Regions from separate parts of the Homo sapiens genome. Here region 2 is linked to region 1. The links come from fine-mapping of genetic effects on gene expression. Tissue or cell type: whole blood. Region 1 holds a variant in brackets; the other region holds the start of a gene. All regions are shown on one strand. Distances are between the middles of the regions. Region 1 overlaps PAM (peptidylglycine alpha-amidating monooxygenase). Region 2 holds the start of PAM (peptidylglycine alpha-amidating monooxygenase).

Region 1 (8,679 bases):
GATCTGTCCCCATAGTTGGGATAGATTTCCTGTGCTTAGTGAAAGGTACAGAAAATATGTCTCAGGTCCCAGAACATAAGAACTCTAGACAGCACGGGATAATGGTAGCTACATTTAGAACATGGCTGGAACATGCTCAAGTCAGAAGAGCTGTGTGGGTCTGGCGGGACCTAGAGATGCAAATACCAAGAACTACATCTATTCTTCTTCTGCCAGCTCCCAACCCCACTTGAAATAGATTGAAAAATAAGGATGGTAAAACTATTTTGAGGAGGATAAATAAAATGCTAAGGATGAAGCATTTCTCCTTGGCCTTTCCACCAGCATAATGATTTCTAAATTAAGAGATTTTAAGTGAAATTCAGATCATTATAATTCAACAGCAGTAATGAACAGCCTTAATTTACAAATCTCAGATGGGAGAGTAAGATTTTTTTCTGCTTCCAGAGGTGTTACCTTCTTCTCATTACAGGGGTCAAATATATCTGCTGGGATTTATCATTATTATTATTAATTATAATCAGCCTTTGCTTGGTAGTTATCTTATTTATAACTTTTGATATAGAGTTTTTAAGATATATTCTTGACCTCTATACCACATATCAAAAGAGTAGTAAGTTACTTGTTTCTTTTCAAGTAAATTATTGATTTGCTACTGACTATGCTCAGAATGATGAATGAAGTAAGATTTCAAGCTGTGAAGAATCTGGAGCCCAGTACCTTTCTGACCCGCAACTTTGACCTAAAAAATGGCATGTGTCTAACTTGGAAAGTAATTTTTAGTTGCTATTTATTTAGAAATTATACTACATTTGTGATGCCTTTCTCCATTTTCTCCATGAATGGTTCAAAATTTAATTCCTAGAAATCACTAGTTTATAATCATTCCCTTTGATGTTCAGCAGTTCATAAAACTAACAGAAACCACATTAAAAAACTCAGAAACTGTTAATAGCAACGATTTAGAAAATAAGACTAAGTAGAGAATAAAAAATTGATATTAATAAGAGCTTACACTAATGATTACGAATTAAATTCTAGGCGCTATTCAAAGTACTTTTACAGGTTTTAACTCATTCAATGCTTACAAAAAGCCTGAGATGAATAATACTAATTTCTCCATTTTGCATATTAGGAAATGAAGACGCTCAGAGTTTAAGTAACGTCTGTTCAAAGTCACACCTTCTACATGTGGACAGAGCTCAGTCTGGCTCCAGGATCTGTGAGCTTACATGACACAAAATTGCCTCCTTTAACAGCTGAAATGTGAAATGTATTCTTGCTTGTGTCCTCTCAGTTCTTTCTCTGAAAATGAATGTGTTCACTGTACACTTGACCCAAGAATGGAACAGTAAATTTACAAAATGCAAACTTTGCTTTACCATAATTCTGCTAACATATTCCATAAATTCTAATAATTATTAAAAATAACTTCATATAAATGATCCAATGTAAGAGATTATAGTTTGTGTAAAGTTCAACATCTTTGGCTCAATTTGAAATAAAACGAACATGTTAAAAAAATAATTTAGTACATATATAACCACTTGAATGAATGATTTTTAAAAAGTTAAATACAATGGTGAGAACTTCCAACACCACTCCTTACTCCCCATTTGTTTCCAAAGTTCCAGAAACCAAATTTCCAACGAGACAAAAACATCTCTTACTAGATGCTTGAAGACACCTTATATTCAATACTTTTATGGTTTCCCCCAACTTACACTTTCTAAACACATTTCTGCCTTGTTTCATGATGTCACTTAACTAACTCAGAAAGAAATTATATTTTCTTTGACCTCACTCTCTCCCTCAACCTCTTCAAGCCAATCAGTCACCATATTTCACCATTTCTGTTTTTGAAACATCTCCTGATCCCACCACCTTCCTTCCTTCCTATAACCACCACTCTAGTTCTTATTGCCATCTTCTTACCTCCACATGATACTTCTAAAGGTAACAGCTCTAACAGGTTGCCTTACCCTCTGGTTTGTCCCTTATTTATTCAGTCTCCCACGTATCTACCAAAGTTCTTTTGTAAAACACAAAAGTACAAAGCTTTTTAAGTTTCCAATTGTTTATAACAGAGGTTCTCAAACTTTAAAGGGCATGAGATTCATTTGAAAGGCTTGCTAAGATACAGATTGCTGGGGACTCCCCCCTCCCTTTTCTTATTAAGTGAAACTGGGAAGGGGCCCAGATATCTGCATTTCTTACTAGTTCACAGGTGGTGTTAATGCTGCTGGGCTAGCATCACTACTTTTTAGTGTCCCAATCAGTGCTGTGCATTAAAACTACTTGGGATACCTATGTAACAAACCTGCATGTTCTGCACATGAATCCCAGAACTTAAAGTATAAAAAAACAAAGAACAACAACAAAAAAGTCTATTTGGGGAAGTTTTATAAAATGACTTGCTGAATCCTAAACCAATTATATGCGGGCATTGCTTTTTTGTTGTTTTTAATCCTCCAGGTGATTCTGATTTCCTAAAGTATGGAGAATCACTGGTGTTTAGTAAAAAGTTCCAAATCCTTAACATGGCATTTAAGACCACTCACCTGGTGTTTATGCACTTGCTTTGCCTAAAAATTCCTAGTAAACGAATAACAACAATAATAAAGTTTGCCTATCTAAAAGCATGTATTCCCAAATGATTTTGTGTGAATTAAATGAGATAATATATAGTAAATGCCCGCCAGTGACTGACACAAAGTCATGTTTCACATAAATGTTAACATCAATTCAATTCAACAAATACGTTGAGTATATTTTTAATTCAATTCTACATATATGTATGACTCACCCTTAATATGGAAGAGGCTACATTCTCTGCTGGGAATATCTGGTTAGATAAGACAGAGATGGTACCTGTCCTCAGAAAGTGAACAGCACAAAAGTAATCAGAGTTTAAGGTAATGAATACCAAACGTTAGTGACTTTTGTAATAAGTACTGTACAAGGAGGAGGACAGGGTCATATGAGAGCTTACAACAGTGATACCTAAATTTTTCCAAGCTTACGGTGCCAAGGAAACCTGAAATCTAAGGTGTGTGGGTGCAAGGGGGGAAACTGAAAAGCGCATTCTAGCCCACCAAAACAGCTTGACCCAATAGCACATAGGCAGGAGCAGCTTAGGTGTGCTAGGGACAGAAAGGCTGGTATGATTGGAGCTTAGAGGTTACACAGGGAGAAGAGGAGCACCAGGTAAGAACAGAGAGAAAGATGGGGGTAGATCAGCCGGGCGCGGTGGCTCACGCCTGTAATCCCAGCACTTTGGGAGTCTGAGGCGGGCGGATCACAAGGTCAGGAGATCGAGAACATACTGGCTAACACGGTGAAACCCCATCTCTACTAAAAATGCAAAATATTAGCTGGGCGTGGTGGCGGGCGCCTTTAGTCCCAGCTACTTGGGAGGCTGAGGCAGAATGGCGTGAACCCTGGAGGCGGAGCTTGCAGTGAGCCGAGATTGCGCCACTGCACTCCAGCCTGGGTGACAGAGCGAGACTCCACCTCAAAAAAAAAAAGATGGGGGTAGATCATGAAGAATTTTGAACTTGATCCAAGAGGAGAGGGAAACCATTCAAGTGTTCTACAATTAGGTCTTCCTGAGGCTGTCACCCTCCAGCTGGTATGCTCCCTGACGGCAGGCGCTGGGTTCTATTCATCTTCCCCTTTTCCATTCTAGTTAAGTGGCCCTCATACTGCTGCATGCACATCCCAAGGGATACTCAAAGACATTCCAGTATGCAAACTGGCACAGAGGTAGTTTAAAGAGAATTAATTTCTAGATCTTTGGTCTTCATATATATTCGTTCCTAAAATTGTACTGAGACTGAATTTGGAATCTGCAAATTATTTTCTCCCACCCAGGCCTTCAGGCTTAGTTTTACTATGAACCTTGTCTTACGGTGGGAAAACTTCAGTGGGGACCAAATAAAGGGATGATTCCAAATACTGGTGTTGGTATTGAAAAAATCAATGATTCTAGGCAACACCTTCTATTGCAACTCAGATGAGTTTTAACCTTTGCTTTCACTGAAATTGAAGACAGATCTAAGCAATGGTCATTTAAACTAATTTATGGTGATAGAAAACTGAATCATATTTGTCCCAGGATATTCTGGACATAATCAAAATTATTTATTGTTTATTTGAAATTCAAATTTAACTGGGCATCTCTATTTTTTTTTTTTTTTTGCTAAATCTGGTAATACACCCACATTTTCATTTTGAACTGGGCCCCACAAACTGTGTAGCTGATCCTGGTCATGACAACAAATATAAACATTCATTTCATGAGAGAAATAACTGGGTAATTATATATGCCACCAGCTAAGATCATACTCAATGAAAATACCTCTTATTTGAGTTTTTTTTCTTTCCTGCCCTTGCAACCCCACACAGAAATACACCCTGACATACAATTTTCCTGCCAAGTTTCCATCTTCAAAGTGTAAAAGTGGTACTGCCAACTGGGAAATAAAAACTTGAAAATGAAAGGCCATTAGCATCTCAGATACACCAAAAATATGGGGAGTATAATAGAAGGAAAGAAAACTTTGAAAAGGCAGATTTTTCACAAAAGCAAAATTTCTCAAAAAAAAAAACTGATTGACAAAAAAGCCAACATGTTGCCTGTACCAGTTTCACCAGTAATAAATAAAATTACACACACACACACACACACACACACACACACACAGAGAGAGAGAGAGAGAGAGAGAAATGGAGAAAGGAAGGGAGCAA[G/A]TGCTCTGGGTACTTAACTGATTCTGACTTTTCCACTACCTGGAACTTAAGAACCAAATATTGACTTTGGGAATATCTCTAAATCCTATGACGTGATTTTCACTTTCAAATATTATGTTTGAAAGATTTGCATGTACTTCTCACTTCTCAATAAACATAGATGTTTTCCTTTCAAGTATCTTTCTAAAACAAGAGCCAAGTTTTTTCCTTCTCCTCTATAGCTGTCAATCATATTTATTATTTGTATCTATTTCAAACTCATTTTGCAATAAAGGATTTCAAAATCTTCTCTCCTTCCTCTGGGGGGAAAACAAAGGGTGAAACAAACAAGGAAGATGACTTTGTATAATCCTTTCAATTTAGATCTGGATTCGTTCCGGCTATGAACTTCATACCAGAGTTCTGCTTTAAGTGCTTCAGATATGGACAAGATGAAAGAAGCTCTTATATCCTATAAAGAGCAAATTCACCTTTGGTGTAAATGTTGGAGAAGTGTGAGGTATGATTTACTCTTTGAAGAAAACATAATGTGTTCTAAAGTGTTCAGGTTTGAAATTCTCCAAATGTTGAGCTCCTAGGAATATCCATTTCATGAGCAAGGATACAAAACCAATCCATCCTTATTCAGTTCAAAGTTTAAGGCTGGAGTAAGTAGTGGACAAGAACACGGATGTGGACTGCAGACTGGCTGTTTTCAGATCGCAGACCAGCCACTTACCCTTACGACCTTGGGCAAGCTTTTTTAAGTTCCTGATGCCTCATTTACATAAGGGAGATGATTATAACAGTATCTGTTTTCATAGGGTTGTTATAAGCATTAAAAACGTGTAGTTCTTAGAAGAGCACGGCTAATCCACAAGAAGCACCATGTAAATTGTTGTTATTACATTAGTATTAAAAATATTTCTGGGCTTAATCTATGAATGCAAGTCCCTGTATATAATAACTGACCTTCTCACTTATTTTTCCTGGCATGCATTCTAAAGATCAAGGTTTTAAAGAAAAATGTTATTTTGTCTTTTATTTCCTATCAAGACTTAGAGCTTGCAGAAAGCTAAAAATATTTTATAAATATAGCCTGGCTGAGCAGCACTGCAATGTGGTAAAAGGAACAGCACAGGGGACACCAAAGCCATGCATTAAAGTCCTGATTCACAACTAAACTGTGAACTGCACTTTAGCATTTAGGTTTTTACTCACTTGTAAAATGAGAAGGTACCCACTGAATTTCTATTACTTCTTACAAAACTAAAATTCTGATTTTGTAACCTTTAACATGAATGTCAAACTTGTCAGAAAGGAATTCAATGAACTCTTACTTGCCAAAGGACCTTCTTGGAATAGTCTTTCTTGAAATTCTAGTTCTCCTATGCTCTCATACTACAAAATTTATCACCCTATACTGTACATAATTTCAACCCTTCTAAAGCCAGGCAATAATATAATCCCAGTGTTAAATGACCCAAAAAAATGAGTAATTATTAAAAGCTTTTCTTACTGGCTTCACCTGGCCCAAAAATGTTAGCAATATCTACAAGTATTGTATGCAATGTTTGCATATTAATCAATACTGTATCATTCTCATGACAGATTTTTGGAGCTGATAGAGATCTCAGAGTAGTGCTTTTAAACCTGGGGCAACTTTACCCTCCAGGAGACATTTGGCAACATCTGGAGTCATTTTTGGTTATCACAACTTGAGGAGTACACTGACATCCAGGGGGTAGAAGCCAGAGATGCTGCTAAACAGCCTCCAATGCACAGGACAGCCCCCACAACAAAGAATTACCTGACCCAAAATATGAAAGGAGAAAGAAAGAAAGAGAGAGAGAGAGAGAAAGACAGAGAAAGAAAGAAAGAAAGAAAGAAAGAAAGAAAGAAAGAAAGAAAGAAAGAAAGAAAGAAAGAAAGAAAGAAAGAAAGAAAGAGAAAGAAAGAAAAAGGTGCTGAGGTTAAGAAACCTGCCTTAGAGCAATGATTTTTCATGGGATGCAGTACTGCCCCCTAGTGTGAGATTCAGAAATCTGGTTGTCAGGGCTGGTGTGGGGAGAGCTGCCAGCAAGAGTAGGCAGGAGTTCAGTCGGGAGGTACACCATGCAATGTGCACGACCTTTTTTTAATGAAGTACGGCACCACATCCTACTTAACTCTCAAATGTCCTACAAATCACATAGGTAATAAATGTCTTTATGATGAGCTAAGCTTACGACCCAAATCCATTTTACATAAAAACACAAGTATTTTTTACATGGTTTAAAACCCCTTATGTTTAGAAATGAAGTTACTACATGAATCAAGAAAGACAATATTTAGTTTTATTTGAAATTTTGCCAAGAATTGCTCATCATTTTGGAAAAATCACATCACCAACAACAATGCCAATGGTGGTACAGTAGTCTTCCCTGATCCTCGGGGCATATCTTCCAACACTCCCAGTAAATGCTTAAAACTGTGGATAGTGCTGAATCCTATATATGCTATGTTCTTTTAAAATTTGATAACCCAGATGGCTAACAGGTGAGGTGGGTAGCATATGTAATGTGGATACAGTGGACAAAGAAATAATTCACATCCTGGGTTGGATGGAGCAGGGGGCACACGTTTTCATCATGCTATTCAGAATGGTGTACAATTAAAAACTTATAAATTATTTGTTTCTGGAACTCTCCAAATTTTTGGACCATAGTTGACCAAGGGTAACTATATTAGGATTCCCTGGAGGGTCAGAACTATTAGGAGATATATACATATATATATGTGTGTATATATATATATATATATATATATATATATATGTATATGGGAGTTTATTAAGTATTAACTTACATGATCACAAGGTCCCACAATAGGCCGTCTGCAGGCGAGGAGCATTGAGAGCCAGTCCAAGTCTCAAAACTGAAGAACTTGGAGTCTGATGTTTGAGGGCAGGAAACATCCAGCATCCAGCATGGGAGAAAAATGTAGGCTGGGAGGTTAGGCCAGTCTCACCTCTTCACATTTTTCTGCCTGCTTTATATTCACTGGCCGCTGATTAGATTGTGCCCACCAGATTAAGGGTGGGTCTGCCTTCCCCAGCCCACTGACTCAAATGTTAATCTCCTTTGGCAACACCCTCACAGGAACAATACTTTGCATCCTTCAGTTCAATCAGGTTGACACACGTATTAACCATCACAGTAAATGAAACCACAGATAAGGGGGGGAATACTTTATCTGAGTGGTCAATATAACAAAGACATCAATCTGCATTTGTAGCTGTCACACATACTGTTATTCTACATATAGGATCAAGCTTTTGAACACTTCATTAGGTCTTATGGTGTAATCATAACTAAACATTTACATATTGAATGAAATACACATTATCTTATTATAAATTACTTATTCCTGTATTGCTCTTTTATATTAAAGTTAGGAATTATATATATACATATATATATATACACATATATATACACACACATATATATGCATATTTTTGAATTACACACTTAGGCAGGTTATATTACACATAAATTTCATTTCTTGGTAATAAAGAGGGCACTGCAAAACATATGCTATGAAAAAGGAGACACTGGATCCAATAGGGTTGAGAATCTTTGTATTATAAAGTACCTCACTCAATTCCTTCACTTTGCAGAAGACAAGTTAGAGGCACAGAGAGAAGCCCATCAGGTTTTCTGACGGCAAATCCAAGGAGTTTTCCACAACAGATAATTCTATTCTATTCTGATCTTATATTCATACTATTAGTAGATCTCTGAGAATTAAGGACTGCCTGATTCAAATGCACACAAAGTATTCCCTCCAAAAACACAAACGGGTAAACCTGACCTGTATAGCATCTACATATAAAATATTACCATGGGAACCACGACAACTACAAACTGAGAAAACTGTCATCACCAACCCACCAGAAAACTAAGCTTC
Region 2 (8,679 bases), 28 kb after region 1:
ACGCCTCTCCCTCCTGCTCTTACCTATGTATTGTTTAACATTTTCTGCCTGACTTCCATTCTAAGGCATCATGCTCCCTTTGGTCTCTTTCAATCTTCCCACCTCTTCAGCTGCTAACTACCACTCATGCTTCAGGTCTTCATGTATTCATGCTGCTAGGAAGTTTTCCTTCACCACCACCAACCCAATTAGGATGAGATGATGCACTGTGTGACATTCACCTACCCAGGACCCTGCTATCCTATCTTCTGAGGTTCTCTTCACTACCCTTATCATGGCATGAATCATATGGCATTATAATTTTTTAAAAATTTTCTTTATAAATTTATAATTCTCTGTTTACAGATCTGCATCCCTCTCTAGACCTTTCAGTCATAAGAAAGTGACTATAACTGTCTTGTATACCATTGTATGTCAGTGCCTAGGAAAAAGCCAAACGTTTAGTGTGGGCTGAATAAACACTTGTTGCATAAATGAATGAAAAAAGTTAGCTGAGGAATGGCTATTTCAAAATATTGGGGAAGAGTGTATTTATATTTTTATATATGTATTCATTTTTAAAATGTGGACCACTGAAATTCCATTCCTTCCCCCCTCCCCCTACCCTGGAGAAACTAAAATAACTACTTGAGTCATAGAGCAATAGCTGTATACTGGCAATGTGCTAAGAACCACACATGGATTAGCTCATTTAATGCTGACAACAGTCCTTTCAGGTTAGTATTTCATTATTCCCATTTTGGAGAGGTAAACATTCAACCCCAGATAAAATGAAGGCCTTATTCTCCACAACACAGTAAATTGTAGGGATACATGATGACTGAAATTTCTGCCAGGATACCTGAGAGCACATGACACCAACAGCAGCTTTATTCACAGCCCATCTTTTGAGCTATTTGTATGTGGTTTTAATAATTAGCTTTCGCATTCAAATGGTAAAGAAAGTTCTTATACACACAAGAAGCATTTATGGCTATTATACCAGATGACACGGCTTCCAGGGCAGTAAGAAGGATCTTTAATCTCATTTCACAAATAGAAAAACAAAGGTATGGAACAATAAAGCCAAGTGTAAAGTTAACATTATGTCCCTCAGGCTGCCCCTCAGCCTGCCATGCCTTAATGTGAGAGTCCAATCAAAGCCTCAAAGCCCAGTATGTAAAGCCTAATAAATTCTGCACATAGCAGATAGATAAATTCTTCCTAGGAGGAGGAAAAGAATCAGAGATGTCACTGAGTCACACAAAATACAACCTAGACAGAAAGTCAAGATCCCTGGTCAATCTTTTCCAGGTGGAATTCTTGCTCATTCTTTGCCCCAAGAAAAAAAAAAAAAAAAAAAAAAAAAAAAAAAAAAACAAAATTCTAAGTCTTTTTTTTTTTTTTTTTTGAGACAGGGCCTCTCTCTGTGGCCCAAGTTGGAGTGTGGTGGCATGATCACAGCTCACTATAGCCTCAACCTCCCAGTTTCAAGAGATCCTCCCTCCTCAGCCTCTTGAGTAGCTGGGACTACCGGCGTGCACCACCACACCTGGCTTTTTTTTTCTTTTAATATTTTTTGTAGAGAGAAGGTCTCACTATGTTGCTGGTTTCAAACTCCTGAACTCAAGCAATACTCCCGCCTCAGCCTCTCAAAGTGTTGGGATTACAGGCATGAGCCACCACACTCAGTCTCACCAAGTCTCGTAACTTTTAAAGTCAAATTTCCAGAGTCACTTCAGGACCCACCAGGCCTTAAGGTCCAGCTTATTAAAAATCTTACATTAAATCTCTGTATATTTTTTCTAGGCATTATAATTTCCTTCCTCAAGGAGTTGAGAAAAAAACTGTATGTGGGAACCACAACATACAGTTGAAGGAAGTTAGAATTAAAATTTCTATAGCTTTTAACATTTGATTAGCACATCATACATGTGTAGAATGTTTTCCTAAGCTTTCATTCTAAAAACACAGAATTCATTTTATTTCCAAGTGCACCTTGATGAAGTAGGAGCACATGGCATTTTATTTTAGAAAGCAATGTCTTAACAAACTTGTTATTTCTTCCAATTATGCAAACTCACCAAATGATTTTTTATCTATTTATTTATTTAGTTTTATCTTTTTTTGAGAGAGTCTCACTCTGTCACCAGGGCTGGAGTGTGTGGAGTGATCTCAGCTCACTGAAACCTCCACCTCCCAGGTTCAAGCGATTCTCCTGCCTCAGTCTCCCAAGTAGCTGGGATTACAGGTGCCTGCCACTATGCCCAAGTAATTTTTTGTATTTTTAGTAGAGATGGGATTTCACCATGTCGGCCAGGCTGGTACGGAACTTCTGACCTTGTGATTTGCCCGCCTCGGCCTCCCAAAGTGCTGGGATTACAGGCGTGAGCCACCGCAGCCGGCCAAATGATGATCTTAAAGGGCCTTTGATAATGCATTCTTGACCTCATTCTACTTGCCATGTATAGTCATTAGAAGACTGTTCATATAAAAATATGAAATAAAACTACATAGTCTTTAAGTTACCTTGGAAGGCCCTTCAGGACAAGGAACATACTCTATATCTTTATATCTTTAAAGCATATAGCAGAGTGCATCGCGGAATGAAAATGCCTATTAAGTCAGGAATGCAGGAACGACAGGGCTTACCATTTAATATCAATTCTAAAGCTGATTATTTATTTTTGAGACAGGGTCTTGCTCTGTCACCGAGGCTGGAGTGCAGTGGTATAAACACAGTTCACTGCAGCCCTGACTTCCTGTAAAGCTGATTTTTTAGGCCATTTACTTGCTTTATAAAGTAACTAGAATGGCATGAACTATGCTTTTTTGTGCCTGTGATTATAAACTGAAAATTTACAAACAATATGTCACATGTTATTTGAGCTAAATGTCTGATTTTACTAAAATGAAAGTATCCTTCCTGGATTATTAGAATTAGCAGTAAATTTAAGTTTGCACCTAGAAGAGAAAAGCGATTGTAAAGAATGTAAAACATCTGAAGCAAACAAAGTCCAATAAGATCTTCCTTCTACTTGAATTTCTATGACCACAAAGGCACAGGATGTAAGGTCCATAGCTTTGTACACAGGGATTGGTGGGGACGACACGATTTCAACTCTGAACCCCAATGACCAGCTCCAGGAACACATGCCTTTTAGCCCCGCAAAGCTACTGACCAAATCACCCAGAGAGATAATCACATCTCAGCCAAAGGACCTGAACTCAGACGATCAGAACACAGGACCTGCCATCAGGCAGCTGCACGAGACAAGAGACCGTGCTCAAAATCACGTAATACCCTAAGTCATCCCAAGGGAGCCCCACAACTACCCTCAGCGGCAGGCAGAGCTGACGCATATTTTGCAGATGACAACATACAGGTTCCGATGGGGCGGGTCCCAAGGCCACAGAGCTGGGAAGGTGACTGAACCTAGACTTAACTAGTATCCCAAGTGGTGGATACTTCCCATTCTGCCTTGGAGATCGCCCTTCGCCCGCGTATTACATTCGGAGGCTGGCAAAACGGCAGGAAGAGAGCAAAGCTGGGCAAGGACGGGAAAGAAAGAGGGGAAGGAATTTCCACTGCTTCCCGGCACTCGCCCCCACTCCACACCCCAGGTTGCTACTCCGCGGCGGCCTCTACTTCCCCAAACTAGACTGAAGGGCGGGCGGAGAACCGAGGAGGCTTTCTAGGCGTCACGGAGAGTTCTCCAAGTTGGGGGCAGAAAAGGCGAATGAACAAATTGTACCCCCTAGGGAGAGGGCACAAGGAGAAGTGCGGAGGTGAGAAGGACCGGAGGGGAGGACGACCCCTCACAAACTGGCCAGGGACTTAATAATGGTGATGAAGGGTCGTGAGAGAGGTTTGGGAAATGCGAGAATAGCTCAGTCCCCAAAATCCTCCCTGGCCGCATCGCTGGATCCCCGCCCCATCCCCCCACCCCCGACCCGGGCAGCCCGGGAGAAAAAGCAACAACCTCCTGGGGCACCAGGAATTGGTGGCAGCAGGATCCCGAGCCCAGGCCCCCTTCCGCGCCCCCACCCTCACCCTTGCCCTGACCGCCTCGCAGTGGCGGCAGCAGCGGCAACAACACCAACCTGCGCGACCACGGGCTCTGTCCGGGACGGAAGCCGGAGCCTGCGGGCGGCGGAGCGGCGGGCGGAGTTAGTTGGAGGCTCCGGCTCCCTGGGCGGGGACAGGCTGAGCACGCGGAGGCAGCGGCGGTGGCGGGGGCTCCCTCTCCTCGGCGTGCGCCGGGCCCAGCCGGGTCCGCCGCTCGCCCTCGACTCCTGGGGCAGGTCTCAGTCCCTCCCCGGGGGCGGCTCCCGGGCCAGCCCCGCGCTCGCCTCCTCCACGCCGGCGGCCTCTGCTCCGCCCTGCCTCTTTGGGCGCAGGGGGCGCGGAGCTTGGGAAGTGGAGCCCTGGCGAGTCCCCAGCGATTGCGCGCAGCTTCCCGGGGTTTCCCTGCGGGGGTCGCGTGTGCTGGGTGTCTGAACTCACGCGCGGGCCAGAGGTAGCCAAGAGCTGGAACTCTTGCCCAAGTGCCCCGGGGAAGGGAGTGAAGGCCCGGCCTGAAAGTCTCTGACCCTCCCGAGTCTCGTGTCCCTAGAAGCAGCCTTGCGAGGTGGCCACGCCAGCTGCCCTGAGAGAAGCAGAGGAAAATGTCCGACTCTCCCTCCGCCCAGCTTCGCGCCAGAAGAACGTTTCCCGAGAGAAGGAAGGACCCATTGACCCCCAGCCCTTGCTCCAGCCTGGAGACCTGGCTGAGTGCATGGAACTGGAAGGATGGCAGAGTACCGGGGCTGAAAGCCTGGGAAATGTGCTATTTCTATTCACACCACCCCCTTGCCCGGCCCCTGGATTCAGGCCACCTCGCTCAGGTCTGCGCAGTGCTTCCCAGTTCACACCTCCGACCCGAGGAGGGAGGTCGGTATCCCTTTCTTAGCCTGGCTTCCCGCCTCCATCTGCATCCCTTTCTGCTAAACCTTTTTAACCCGCAGAGTGCCCAGCGCGCACACACCGATCACTTCGCCCCTAAACTGCGGGCAGGGAACTCTGGAGCCACCCACATCCCCAGCCTCACCCCAAAGCAAGAGAAAGCAGGGAGCCGCGCGTGGGGTGGTGGGGGCGGGGCTGGAGAGTTCCAGTAGGAAGGTTTTATACCCAAGAGGCTTGATGATGTGCAGTACTGACCCCACACACAAATTGATATGCGTTTAATTGAAGGCAGGTATTTGCCACTGTCTCTCCCTGTCTGCAGGTAACCGCTTGAGTGCGTTCACCTCGCCTCTTCCATCCCCAGCGCCAGCCCAGCCCCCTCTCTTTCTCCCAGAGTCCCATCCTCCTCTCCCTCACCTCTCCCATCCCAGCTCCCTGCAGCGCGGGTCCCGAGCTGCTCCAGATCCCCAGCACCCAGCTCTGGTCTTTCCAGACAACTCCTCCCCTTCAGAATCTGGTGTGGTAGCAGGGAGGTTGTGAGAAGGGACACTGAGGAAGATAAAGAAGGAGAAGCCAGTGGACTGGGAAGAAGGTAGGAAAGTGCGAACCGAAGGGGTACACCGGAGAGGAGCTATGGGAAATGAGGCAAAGCCTTCAGGCTATAGGGGGATTCCCAGAAAGAAAATCATTTTCTCCATAGGGAAACTACCGATGCTCGCTGTAGACCAGTTGGAAAATCTGTTGTACACCCTCCCAACAGAATTCCTAGTGAGCAGTGGCCAGACTGGTCAGGGCCTAGAGCATGTGTCCAGGAACTCCATCCACTTCCCAACCCAAATTCCAAGGCAGGCGGATGACCCTCATTTTGGAAACTTGATTCTGAGAAGGTGCGAGAAGACACCGAGCTGAGTCTGTTTACGGATCCCGGGCTGTTCTTCATCTTTAGGCATCTCCTAAGTCACTTTATCTCTTCCTCCTGGTCTGGGTTGTTAAGGAAAGCAAGCACTTGAGACCCTCCCTCAAATACGTCTCTCCTCTGTGTGTGTGTGTGTGTGTGTGTCACAGAGAGAAAGTTTGTGGTGTGAGAGAGAGAAGAAAATGTGGAGGGGCAGGAGTTCTAGGCTATGGTGTTTTGTTTCTCTTTGTTTTCTTTCTTCAATTCAGTACATTTTTGTGCCAAGATGATTTTCTTGTTCAGTGGTGACTATATTTTTGCCTTAAATGTGGGAGAGTAGTTGGGACAACACTTCTAAATGTAACCTGACGGTAACCTCTCACACCCTCAAGGTCCTGGTGTGTCTGGAATTGGTGAGTTCTTGGTCTCACTGACTTCAAGAATGAAGCCGCGGACCCTCTCTGTGAGTGTTACAGTTCTTAAAGGCAGCATGTCTGGAGTTTGTTCCTTCTGATGTTTGGATGTGTTTGGAGTTTCTTCCTTCTGGTGGGTTCGTGGTCTCACTGGCTCAGGAGTGAAGCTGCAGACCTTCGTGGTGAGTGTTACAGCTCATAAAGGCAGTGTGGACCCAAAAAGTGAGCAGCAGCAAGATTTATTGCAAAGAGCAAAAGAGCAAAGCTTCTCCAGTGTAGAAAGGGACCCCAGCGAGTTGCTACTGGGGCAGCCTGCTTTTAGTCCCTTATCTGGCCCCACGCACATCCTGCTGATTGGTCCATTTTACAGAGAGCTGATTGGTCTGTTTTACAGAGAGCTGATTGGTCCGTTTTGACAGGGTGCTGATTGGTGCGTTTACAATCCCTGAGTTAGACACAAAAGTTCTCCAAGTCCCACTAGATTAGCTAGATACAGAGTGCTGATTAGTGTATTCACAATCTCTTAGCTAGACATAAAGGTTCTCCAAGTCCCCACCAGATCAGCTAGATACAGAGTACTGATTGGTGGATTTACAAACCTTGAGCTAGACACAGGGTGCTGATTGATGCATTTACAAACCTTGAGCTAGACACAGAGTGCTGATTGGTGTATTCACAATCCCTTAGCTAGACATAAAGATTCTCCAGGTCCCCACCAGATTAGCTAGATACAGAGTGCTGATTGGTGCATCCACAAACCCTGAGCTAGACACAGAGTGCTGATGGAGCAGGGGGCAGCGCTAGTCTAGGAGGCTTGGGGAGGTTCGGTAGCGCAGGAGCCCACAGCCTTGGGGGAGGCTCAGGCATGGCGGGCTGCAGGTCCCGAGCCCTGCCCCGCAGGGAGGTAGCTAAGGCCCAGCGAGAAATCGAGTGCAGTGCCAGTGGGCCAGCACTGCTGGGGGACCAGGCGCACCCTCCGCAGCTGCTGGCCCGGGTGCTAAGCCCCTCACTGCCCTGGCGGGCGAGGCCGGCCGGCCACTCCGAGTGTGGGCCCGCCAAGCCCACGCCCACCCGGAACTCTAGCTGGCCTGCAAGCGCCCTGCTCAGCCCTGGTTCCCGCCCTCGCCTCTCCCTCCACACCTCCCTGCAAGCTGAGGGAGCCGGCTCCGACCTCCGCCATTGCAGGAAGGGGCTCCCACAGTGCAGCGGCGGGCTGAAGGGCTCCTCAAGCGCGGCCAGAGTGGGCGCCAAGGCCACGGAGGTGCCCAGAGCAAGCGAGGGCTGCCGGCATGCTGTCACCTCTCACTGGTTGGCACAGCCAATTTTAGCTGTGCTGTCAGACGCCCAGTAGTGCACCTCACCTCAGAGCCTCAGACTTACAGCCTCAAGGCATTCCATTCTGTGTGCAGGCCAGCTTGGGCAGTGGAGCCAACCACCTCCACTTAGGTGAGGAGAAGCCTCCCTTTTCACTCTCCTCAGGGCTCCACCCCACCTGAGGTTGTCTCTGCACTCTGTCATTACAAAACTAGTCCTTAGTGTCCCAGTTTTACTTTCAAAAATACTATATCCAATTTAATTTAAAAAATCTCTTTCTCCGCCCCCCGCTTGTTTCCTCTAATGCTCAAAAGGCTAGGCCATTGAAAGTTCAAGAGGGTAGAAATTTCTCTTTTTCTTCTCATCAAAAGAGAAATAGTCCTTGAAAGAACCTTATTAAACTTATATCCTTTCTGAATATGGTAATCCCTTGGTATTGATTATTTTAATTTTATATTAATGGTATGATCTTACTGCAAAAGGTGACCAGTCAGCTGATGAGGATAAAGGGTCTAGTTTCTTCCTGGAGAAACTCTGACAGCTAAAAGAATGGGAGGGTTTATTTACAGACAGGAGAATTGGTCTCCGTCAGTGTTGCAAAGTAGATGGAGATGGACATTCCTTTGTAAACGTCTCTCTTTTTTCAGTTTTATTTCATAGCAGCCTTGTCCAACTAATACTGCCAGTTCTCCAAGTCAGTTTGCCTCACACAAAAGTGTTAGGGACTTCAGATGCTACTTCCTACTAGTGTTTGCCTTGAAAAAGAGTGACATTTCAAGCAGAAGTGAGAGAGTAAAGGAGGATTCATGGAAAATATTTCCTGTACCCTTTAAGACTTTTCTCATAGTCATTTTATGTAAAGATGGGTCTGATGGACAGAACTTACTCTGAACAACTTGGCAACTGTTCAGGCCTACAGGCTTCTTTGAAAATTAAAAAAAAAACAAATGCACACTTTCTCATTTCCCAGCACTTCAAACATGATCTAAGAGTACAGAAGGTTACATTCAAGTAGCAGAATAAGCTTCAAAATGGTTATATCAAACAGTCAAATTTGCTTATGCATATTCAGAACGACAAGAGAAAATATTAATTTCAATTTAGAAGTCATCAAAAAGCACCTTGTGGGCAAT

What was found.
Region 2: PAM starts here. The variant in region 1 is fine-mapped to the expression of PAM in whole blood (INTERVAL, PIP above 0.99).

What each region holds. Positions count from the first base shown.
Region 1 is chr5:102,778,752-102,787,430 of GRCh38, reverse strand. The region is part of intron 1 of PAM (peptidylglycine alpha-amidating monooxygenase); the gene reads right to left. Among named protein-coding and RNA genes, the nearest start is that of PAM, 28 kb to the right of the region's middle. The variant G/A (reference allele first, on the strand shown) is at 4,750.
Region 2 is chr5:102,750,753-102,759,431 of GRCh38, reverse strand. It overlaps PAM (peptidylglycine alpha-amidating monooxygenase), which reads right to left and starts at 4,127. Exons shown (of 26, transcript NM_001177306.2): 1 at 4,084-4,127. RefSeq lists enhancers at 3,404-3,493, 3,065-3,565, 4,573-5,098 and a silencer at 3,884-4,433.